Linked DNA regions of Homo sapiens: region 2 is linked to region 1. The links come from fine-mapping of genetic effects on plasma protein levels. A gene starts in region 1. The other region holds a variant in brackets. All regions are shown on one strand. Distances are from middle to middle. Region 1 holds the start of PDCD1LG2 (programmed cell death 1 ligand 2). Region 2 overlaps PDCD1LG2 (programmed cell death 1 ligand 2).

Evidence for each region. PIP is the posterior inclusion probability: the model's chance that the variant is causal. Protein levels are from the aptamer-based SomaScan assay of Sun 2018.
Region 2: its variant is fine-mapped to the plasma level of the PDCD1LG2 protein (Sun 2018, PIP 0.95). The variant lies in the coding sequence of PDCD1LG2. If it changes the protein, the assay may bind it differently, which can mimic a change of level.

What each region holds. Positions count from the first base shown.
Region 1 is chr9:5,507,971-5,513,498 of GRCh38, forward strand. It overlaps PDCD1LG2 (programmed cell death 1 ligand 2), which reads left to right and starts at 2,561. Exons shown (of 7, transcript NM_025239.4): 1 at 2,561-2,833. All of the region lies in intron 2 of INCR1 (interferon stimulated noncoding RNA 1), which reads right to left. RefSeq lists enhancers at 1,109-2,308, 2,250-2,329, 2,390-2,449, 2,610-2,659.
Region 2 is chr9:5,555,616-5,560,615 of GRCh38, forward strand. It overlaps PDCD1LG2 (programmed cell death 1 ligand 2), which reads left to right. Exons shown (of 7, transcript NM_025239.4): 5 at 2,003-2,137. The region is part of intron 1 of INCR1 (interferon stimulated noncoding RNA 1); the gene reads right to left. Among named protein-coding and RNA genes, the nearest start is that of PDCD1LG2, 48 kb to the left of the region's middle. The variant T/C (reference allele first, on the strand shown) is at 2,093.

The DNA.
Region 1 (5,528 bases):
ACCCAAAGAAATGTAAATCATTCTATCACAAAGACACATGCACACACATGTTCATCATAGCACTATTCACAATAGCAAAGACATGGAATCAACCTAAATGCCCATCAACGACAGACTGGATAAAGAAAATGTGGTACATATACACCAAGGAATACTATAGAGCCGTAAAAAAGAGCATGTCCTTTGCGGGAACATGGATGGAGCTGGAAGTCATTATGCTTAGCAAATTAATGCAGGAACAGAAAACCAAATACCACATGTGTTCACATATAAGTGGGAGCTAAGTGATAAGAACACATGGACACAAAGAGGGGAACAACACAAACTGGAGCCTAGCTGAGGGTGGAGGCCCCAGGGAGGAGGGAGATGAGCAAAAAAAAAAAAAAAAAAAAAAAAAAAAAAAAAAAAAATGACTGGGTTCTAGGCTTAGTATCTAGGGGACAAAATAATCTGTATGACAAACCTCCATGACACGAGTTTACCTATGTAAAATAAAAGTTTAACAAAAAACTAAAAAAGTTACCTATGTAAAACAAAAGTTTAACAAAAAACTAAAAAAAGTTACCTCCACCCAGAAATGCCTTTATTAACACTTTGGTTTGTAACCCTCCATTATTTTCTCTAGACATATAGATTTATGAGGCAGGCTAATGTGCTGAGACACTAGCTTGAGTTTCATTTGGCCTTGCTGTGAATATACCTGGGCCTTCCTTTGCTTCAGGATGCCCTAAACTGTGGCAAAGCAGAGCTGAACTGCCCAAAGGAAAGTGTGAAGAGGAGAGGCAGGCCAAGCCTGGAGAAAGGCTACCCAAGAGAGAGGAAAGGAAACTGTGGTGAGTGCACCTCACTCCTAAAGAAGGACAGGAACTCTGGTAGGTGAGGTGTGTTTTCCATAGATACTAAAACTCAAAGCCACACAGGGGACATATGTCCATTCCTCAGCCAGTCACTGTGGCCAGGAACAGAGGGTCAGGTAAGAGAATGGCAACTCCTAAGGAAACCACATGCCTGGAGCCGTGGGTGTAGAAGCAGATCCCCAGAGGAAGCACGGGTCCCACAGACACAGTCCCAACTCTTGCCGTCTAGGCAGCCACTCCCATCTGTAGGTACTACACAGCTTCGTAGTACTTCTTAAAGTACTTCTTGTTCAAGCGATGGGACGAAAAGAGGATGCAGGACAAGGAGGAGGAAAGGAGATCCTTGCTTTTGTAGAAGAAACAAGGAGGCAGGGAAGGCTTAGAGGACAGGCAAGGAGAGATGTTTTCTTAAAAACATCCTCTGTCTGAGTGTTCAGCCCCACATCTCTGCTGGTCCTACCCCTATAAGCACAAGGAAAAGGGCGGGAGGCAGCAGGAGAAGGATTGATCATTCAGGCCTATATTCAAGTTTGCCTTTTCTTGCCATGTGGTTTTAATCTCACCAATCACAAGCCTGAAGGTATAGTGGGGCCACTGAGGTCCGAGTTCAAATTCAGCCATGCAACTAAGGAAACATTGTTTGATCTTGGTCCTGTTTTCTCATGTGTAAAATGGGTCTAACTCTAAACCACACATTGCACTGAGAATGAAATGAGGCACTATGAAATGAAGTGAGGTTAGTTGAATAATGTTCCCCCCAAATTCATGTCTACTGAGGACCTCAGAATGTGACTATATTTGGAAGTAGGGTCTACGCAGATGTAGTCTAAATGAGGTCATACTGCATTAGGGTGGGCACTAATCAAACGGATGGTATCCTCATAAGAGGAGAGGAATGTAGAGATACACACAGAAAAGAATGTCATTTGAAGATGGAGGCAGAGATTGGAGTGATACAACTATAAGTCAGGGAATGCCAAGGACTTGAGGTCATGTGTTACAGAAGCCCTAGGAAATGAGTCAATTTCCTGGCACAGCACTAAGACATGCTGGTATTCTTCATTCCATCCCTTTCCCCTATTCCTAAATGTGCTCCAGGGACAATGGGGAAGCTGGAGCACATATAAGAATAGGGGAAAGAGAGGGAATAAAAGGGTATTAAAAACTCTCAAGGTATGTTAAAAAAAAGACTCTCAACAAACCAGGTATTGAAGGAACATACCTCAAAATAATAAGAGCCATCTATGATGAACCCACAGCCAACATCACACTGAATAGGCAAAAGCTGGAAGGATGCCCCTTGAAAACCGGCACAAGACAAGGCTGCCTTCTCTCACCACTCCTATTCACCATACTATTGGAAGTCCTGGCCAGAGCAATCAGGCAAGAGAAAGAAAGAAAAGGCATCCAAGAAGGAAGAGAGGAAGTCAAACTACCCATGTTTGCAGATGACATAATTTTATATCTAGAAAATCCCACAGTCTCAGCCCAAAAGCTCCTTAAGCTGATAAACTTCAGAAAGTTTCAGGATCCCACATGAACATACAAAAATCACTAGTATTCCTAAACACCAACCATAGCTAAGCCAAGAGCCAAATCAGGAATGCAATCCCATTCACAGACAAACTGCTAAAAGCAAAACCAAAACTTTCCAAATAAGCCAGGCTTTCGTCAGTTCCTCAGAACTAGTTCTGGTTTGACTCACTCTCATGTTACGGCAAACCTTAAGCTGAATGAACAACTTTTCTTCTCTTGAATATATCTTAACGCCAAATTTTGAGTGCTTTTTTGTTACCCATCCTCATATGTCCCAGCTAGAAAGAATCCTGGGTTGGAGCTACTGCATGTTGATTGTTTTGTTTTTCCTTTTGGCTGTTCATTTTGGTGGCTACTATAAGGAAATCTAACACAAACAGCAACTGTTTTTTGTTGTTTACTTTTGCATCTTTACTTGTGGAGCTGTGGCAAGTCCTCATGTGAGTAACGAGTGGGTTGAGATACTCTCATACTATTATGTTGTGGACCATGATGAGGCTGCCAGGGTGGGGGAAGGGTGGCCTACCTTCTCTCCACACCATTTGAGGCAAGAGACATTCTGCCTCAGAAATTGTGCTGAGGGGCACAAATAAGCTAATGTCCTCCTGCCCCAGATTTCTCTCACTTGTTCCTATGCATATTGTTCTTGTTGCTCAGTTTTATAAGGTGAGATATTTTCTGCACCAAATATGTGCACTGTAAAATAATATAACTATTCTTAAGATTGTCTCTCAGCTTAGAGTTTTCGGAGGCTTAATGGTGAAGAACTTAAAAATCTGTTTTCCTATGACTGACATCTGTTTGTGATTATCCATTTAGCAGACGGTGATCCCTCCAGGCTGGCCTTTGTTTACAAGCTATGCCTAAGAGGCAGCTGTTGGTGGAGGGGGAACAAAAACAAAAAACCCAAAACTATTATCTTAATAACTTATAGAGGTAATCATTATTGAACAAAAGCATGATTTGGGGACTATGGAAAGGCTTATTCTTTCCATATAAAATGATCAGCGAAAAGGTAGAAAAATTAAACAGAACTGAAATAATTGCTATTGATTGCTCACCGCCTGGATGCACTGAGTAGAAGAGCAAAGGCAATGGGTTCATGTGGAGGGGATGGAGGTGGAGAGGCTAAGCCTGAGTGAGATTACCAACTAATCAGGACTTTTAACCCAAAAATACTATGGCTCTGAGGGGCAGGGAATGAGAGACCTAAATTGACAAAATGCAGAGTAAAAATATTCAGTGTGAGCAGTAATGAGACAGTTGTATCAGGGTCAAATACGGAGTTGGCCTGGATGTCCTCCAAGCTCCTTTCCAAGCCTAAGATTCTGTGAGTGGATGAACAATCCTGGTCCTGCTGCTCTTGCCACTGGAACCTGATCTATTTGCCTTCATTATTTGAGGTCTCCCCATCATCAGGCTCTTTGTTGTCTGCTGCTTCAGGGTGTCTTCTCCCCAGATTTCTCCTGTTGGTGAGCTTTTCCATTGAACTGGAGCTCCTCACAGGCAAGAAGCACACCTTTAAGGTTCTCTGAGTCCCAAGTTCCTAGTGCAGTACCTGGCAATACACATAGGTGCTTAGTGGGTGCTTGCCGAATTGTTGAATGGATTTATTTGATGAAATGTCAGGAGAATCACCAGAAATGAAATGTTCGTGTAATGGACAGGGGGAAGTTTGAGGTTGATTTGAAAAAGGAGATGGTAGAGACAGTATTATGGGTCATGCTTCAGAGTTTATTTGCTTTACAATACATTGGACAGCAACCAGTAGATTGTTGTGTGTCATTTTAATTCCACATGCTAATGTCCAAATATGTCATATGTCTTAATTGTTGCATACGTGGGTTACTCTGTAAAGGGGCAACTGTAGTATCACCTCCTCATGCCACACCCTGCTCCACTGTAGCTGGGCTCGATAACCTTCAAATCAACTCACAGAATTCCAGGACAGACAAGAGCATCTGAAAGGTTATCTAGCCCCAGTCACCTCTGATGCCTTCCAGCTGTCTCTAACACACCTGTGGGCTGACTTCCAGTTCTTAGTCTTCACGGCTCCCTATGATGAACTGCCCCTGCTTTGAGGGATTTTCCTCCATTGCCTCAGAAGTACTGCCCTGGGGGAGCTTCTGATGCTCTTCTGACCACCTTGTCTCTGCCTTTTTCACTAGTCCTCTGTTCCTGCTCTCCAAATTTTGGGACGTTCCTGAGTTCAGATCTTTTCTTTATAATCTTTCTTTTATATTCTCCCCATCAGATGGTTCATTCATTCCTCAATATTAACTAACATTTCCATATTAGAAATAACTTCCTTATCTTTAGCCCTAAATTTTGTCCCAAACTCTGGACCTACAATTTTTTGGAATGCTTATGCCTTGCCCAGACTAAAACCAAACTTACTGTCTTCCCTCTAAAATCAGCTCCCCATCTTCTATTTCTCCCTGCCACCCTTCCTCCCCCATGGCTCCAATATTGTCTTGCCAGTCTGGTCTTAAAACCACAGTCAATCTTGTTGCTTTTCTCTTTGTCTCTTGTGCATGGCTGATCAGCAGTCAATTGTTTTGTCAATTGTCTTATATGTTTCTTCTTCCTCTTCCTTGCTTCCTTTTTCTGACCTGAAGTTAGGGCCTTGTTACCAAACATCTAGATGAATACAGTGACCCCCTAATTGAGAGGCTGTCTACCAATTCCACCCACCCTCAATTCTATACTCAAAAAAAAAATTAGATGTAATCTTTTTCAGATACTCCTTTGGTATTGTCACTTAGTTTTTGAGTGACTGCCACTATTTCCCGATTGGCAGCTCTGCCTGGCATTAAGCTCTTGACATTCTCAACCTAAGTGTCCAGCCAAGTTACTCTGTTCATTGTCCCCTCAACACGCCTGTGCATTTGCACCTCTGAGACTGCTTCTGAGTCAGCTATGCACTGCCCTTTAGAATAGCTTCAACCCCAAATCCTACCAGTGCTTCAAAGGCCCAGTTCAAATCCTACCCCTCTGGGAAGTCTCCCTTCCTTTAGTCAACTTCTAGGGCTTTTGCAATTTTATCACTTGTTTTACATCAGTTTTACTATTTTTCATGTGTGAGAGTTTTAACCTTCCAATTATGGTACAATGTCTTTAAGGGCAAGGGCCCTT
Region 2 (5,000 bases), 47 kb after region 1:
GTTCCATAGAGTCATTCAGTGATCCAGATTATTTTCATCTGTTGCTCTGCCATTCTCCAGGATGTTGTCCCTATAAAATTGTCAAAGCTCAGTCAGTGCCAAACCCATGTTTCAACCTTCAGAAAGTAAACGAGTGGTGGAAAACACATTCAATGTTTTAAGGCCAAGACCTTGAAAACTCACTCTCTTAGCCTGAACTTAGATTACATGGCTGGGCCCACTTAACTATAGGGGAGGCTTGGAAACATAGTCTCTGAGAAGCCATGTGTCCAGCTAATTCCCTAATACTAAAGTTGAAAGAAAGAATGGATTAACCAGCAGTATACCACAAGGTAACAAATGACTAGGAGGATCAGGCTAGGTGGACTAGAAAAGAGACAGTCAATTCAGTGCAACAATTCCATATTGGCACTTTTCATGTAGCTGTTGCTTGGCTCTATCTAGAGAGGACTCAGAGGTAGTTTAGATAAGGCCTTTGCCCTCCAAATACAGTCTAAGCAGACTGATTTCCTACTGGATGTTCAACTTTGGAGTCTTCAGGGATGAGTAGGGCTTCTGTACGTGGAAGAGACTATGAGGGAACCTGCACAGGACAAGGGTTTGCATAAAGACACTGAGGTAGGGACCTCTCCTGTTGTGGGGACAGTGAGAGGCCCAGGTCTCCTTGACTCACAAAGTGCTTACTAAGCACTTACTAGAAATTAAGAAGCAGATTATAATCAATATGGGTTATCCAATGTTTGGATGAGCAAGGCTCCTTATCTTTTCTTCGTTAATGTTAATCACACTCTTTTGGATGGAGACAAATATCTGTGGGGGCTGAGCTTTGGGTCAGATAGATCTGGGTTTGCAATCCTGGCATTGACTTTTACTTAGCAGTGATGACCTCACATAGATTATTTAGCAACTCTGAGACTTACTTCCTCAACTCTAAAATGAGGGGCTCAGACTAAATAATGTCTAATCTCTTCTCCAGTAAAACAATCCGTGGTTCTCAGATAGCACTGTGCTGGAGGTAGTGGGGTTTGAGGGCTGGGAAGTTGGGAGGACTGAGCCCTTCCCGCTGAGCAGTTTCGTCCAGTTTTTCCTGTACCAGCCTGTCATGTTTATTCCATGTGAATGACTCCAGAGGCAAAATTCAAGCTTTTGAATAGGGCACAAATTAACTTGAGTACCCTTTCATTTCCCTGTAGGTGAACACTCCTCTAGCCCTGCCTTTTGTCAGTCTGGAGCCCTTGTTCTAATCTGTACACACCAGAGGACTTTACAAGGCTTTCCCCAGCCTCCAGAATTATTCTTCTGATCCACCCTCTACTAAACTCACCCTTTCCTCAGTGCTAGGACGTTGAAAAACCGAAACAAGGCAAAGGGCCAATTGTAATAATTCACACTAAGGCATGAGTGACTAGGTTTAGTATATTAACACTACCTAGGATATTCTATTTCTTCCAAAAGGATCCTGTTAATCCTTGAAATTTAACAACTAATGGTATAGATTCTAAGCACTGTGAGTACTTGTCAGTGGGGGAAAGACATTTTTGGGCTGAGAGACTTTGCCACTGGGAAGAGAGAGAGGATGAGGAGGAGAAGGGGGATAGGGAGGAAAAAGAGAAAAAAGAAAGAAAGATGATTAGATGATAGATGGATGGATTGATGGATGGATGGAAAAAAATAACATGAGAGAGTGGTAAAAAGCACAGAATCTGGAACCAGACTGTATCTTAGCTGGGTCACTTACTATGTAACTTAGGGAAAGCTTCCTAGTCTCTCTGTGCCTCCCTTTCTTCACCAGTGAAATGGGGATCATAGCAGAGCCAACTTCACAGAGTGGTTGCGAGGAGTGGATGAGCTGATAGGTGCAGAGCACTTAGAATAGGGCCTGGTGTGGAGTAAATGCTCCACAGAGCTAGCCGTGTTGGCTGTCACCCACTCATGTGGCCAGCCTGTTGGTCTACCTCTTAGTTGCCATGTAACAGGATTCTGGTGCTTTTCCTTTGCCCAGGTCAGATGGAACCCAGGACCCATCCAACTTGGCTGCTTCACATTTTCATCCCCTTCTGCATCATTGCTTTCATTTTCATAGCCACAGTGA[T/C]AGCCCTAAGAAAACAACTCTGTCAAAAGCTGTATTCTTCAAAAGGTAAGTGAGTTTTATTCATGGTAACCCAATGCACTGGGTGTCTGCAGCATGAGCCACTGCTTTGCACTGCAGGCCTATGGCTTGCTGCTTTCATGCTAAACCCACTCAGAGCTTATGAACCACTTTGAGCTTGTCTTGATGATTATTTTTCCCCAGAAGAAAATGGCTCTCATCGTCAGTGAGCTGAACTTCTTACACTGAGTTTTTTAAAGGGAATGTTTTGTTCTTATGTCTGAAAGAGTTTGTCTTATTCTTTGAGCCAAGAGCTTTCATCAGCCTCATGAGAGTGATGTTATTTTGGCAATGCAGAGAGCTACGTGCTCCGATTTTGCTGGTGGGAGGTTGCCAGGATCCTTTCTGAGGATTCCTTCCATTTTCACCCCTCTTTTCCCCAGTCTGGATATGACCTGGGTTAAACCCACCCCCTCTCCCAGGAATCTCAACCTCACGGTTGGGTAAGGAAAGGAGAAAGGTTTGTGAGGCCATTTGGGGATAAGGAAACAGCTGGTTGGTGGTGCATTAACGTCTTTCAGCAGCTCCCTTCGAGTTTCTCCTTAGCCTGTTGTATTCTTACCAACACACTCCTGTTCTGTTGTACCAGCTGGGACAGAGCATGCTGAAGCCTTTCAGCCCTGATTTCATTGCTTCATTGTTCATGTGTCTGTCTTTGGTTTCCTGGGTGGAGCCTGCCCACAAAACCCCCAGAATGTATGCAGGCCTAGCTGGTGCTTTCCTAAACGGCTCCCTTGTCTGCACTCAATGAACTTCTCCAAAGATCTATACATGGCCTCATCTATAGAAAGAGAAATGACATGTGGAAATAATTCAGTAGGAGTTTGCAGCAGCACTATCTGAGGACTAGGGGAATTTTAAGTGGTTGTTATCTTACATTTATACTCATAACTTCTATATTTTCATCTGCCATAAAATATTGTCATGTTCTATTTGTCCATTGCCCTATGTGTGTATGTATTCACTTGGGTGCTGACCACAATATTTCTAACTGTAGAATGCAAGGAATTGTTGCCAAAAGAAAAAGACAGAGGGAGGGAAGAAGATGGCCAGGGGAGTGAGGGAGAAAGAGAAAACAGGAGATGGAGAAGAAGAAAGATAGAAAGAAAAATAAATGTGGGAGGGAAGGGAGCTTCATGGTAAAGGAGGAGGTATGTCCAACAGAACTTCGACTTTTAAATAGAACCACTTCAGAGAGTTGTGTCAGGTGCACCTCAGTTGTCTTATCTTCTGCCATTCTTCTTTTACCTCTCACACCCATACCTCAGGGTTCAAGGCCTGGGGCCTGAGGACTCCTTAATAACTTCAGAAATGAGCAGCTGAGTGTTCCGTTCCAGCTGTCTTTGGGAGAATGGAATGGAGTCACACTCAAAGATAGAGTGGAAATAAATCCTCTCCTCATCCTTCACCCCAATCTTAAGAGTGAGTGAGGATATCAGTAGCTCCGAGCTGGGAGGTAAAGCTCAAGTTCTAACTGTGATTAGGAGACCTTTCTTACAAATAAGAATTAAGTGAATAAATGTGCAAACAATTTCTTTTATATTTTTAATGAACCAGAGAGAAATCATGGTTGCCTATATAACCCTTGTCTCCAACTCACTTGCATTCAGATCTGCTTTCTTACATGTGTCTGCCATGCACACAAACTTGTGTGCCATGGAAAAGGGTTGAGAACTGCTGGTGATGCAGACAGAGCTTTAAACCAGGGTCAGAGGGCTAGGCTGGGACCTTGTGCTGCCATTTGTTGGCTTTCTGACCTTGTACAAATTGCCTATCTTCTTTGAGATGGTCTTTCTATCTGTAAAAGGGGAAGCAGCAAGAGAAGGAACATTTTACAGCTTATTGGCCGAACTTCACTGCCGCTAGTGTGGTTCAACTTGGACTACAGAGAAATCTTCCTAACTGGTTTCCCTGTATTCACTCCTGCTACCTCCAACTTGGTCTGTTCTCACTTTTTGCTATAATAGGCTTTTAAAAATCATAAATCTACCATGTGTCCTCTGTCCAGACCTTCTCCATGGCTTCTTATTGCTCACTGGATGAAGTTCCAACGAGCCCAGGATGGTTTGACTCATGTCTCCAGCTTTAACTGCATCACCATCACCTTCATTGTCTAAAGCTCTAACCACACAGGATTTTCTAGTCCTCAGAGGCATGGCAGTCTTTCAATTCCGAGTTTTCTCATACAATATTGTCTCTTCTTAAAATATTTTTTCTTGTTGTCCACCTGAGTTGGAGTCATCTTTTAAATCTCAGCTAAGCTTATACTTCATCAAGTCTTTCCTAATTCTACCTCCACGCACCACACCCATTACATTAAATCCCCTTATTATATGTTTCCATAGCACCTACTTCTTCTTTCAGTATACTCAGCACACAATCACATGTCTAGGATCTGTTTTAATAGCTTGGACTACCAATTAAATTGCATCCCTTTTAATTTTCCAATTGATTCCTCAAGTACCCACATGCCCATCTTAGCAAGAAGTTCAGTGTCTCCCTCTTATAGCATGTACTTCTCCACCTCCCACAAACTGCCAGAAAGCTTACTTAGCCCACAGGGCCAGTGCTAGGCAGCTAGGTTAGTCCTCCAGAGGGCCCTGGTTTTGAGCAGTTGCTGTCTACTCCGGCCATGCAGAATCTCTGGTCCTTCCAGATGTCTCCATCCACTGTGCAAAGGTAACCTTGCTGGTTCCGATCCCCACACAGACCACAGTGCTACAAGATTACAGTTCTTATGGTTCCCCAACACATGCTCTGTCATTGGTCCCAAAGCAGGACCCCTATGGGTTGATGAGGTAGGAGGAGGTCCCTGCCTTAGCCACAGCTGCACACAGCCAGCCTCTTCCCT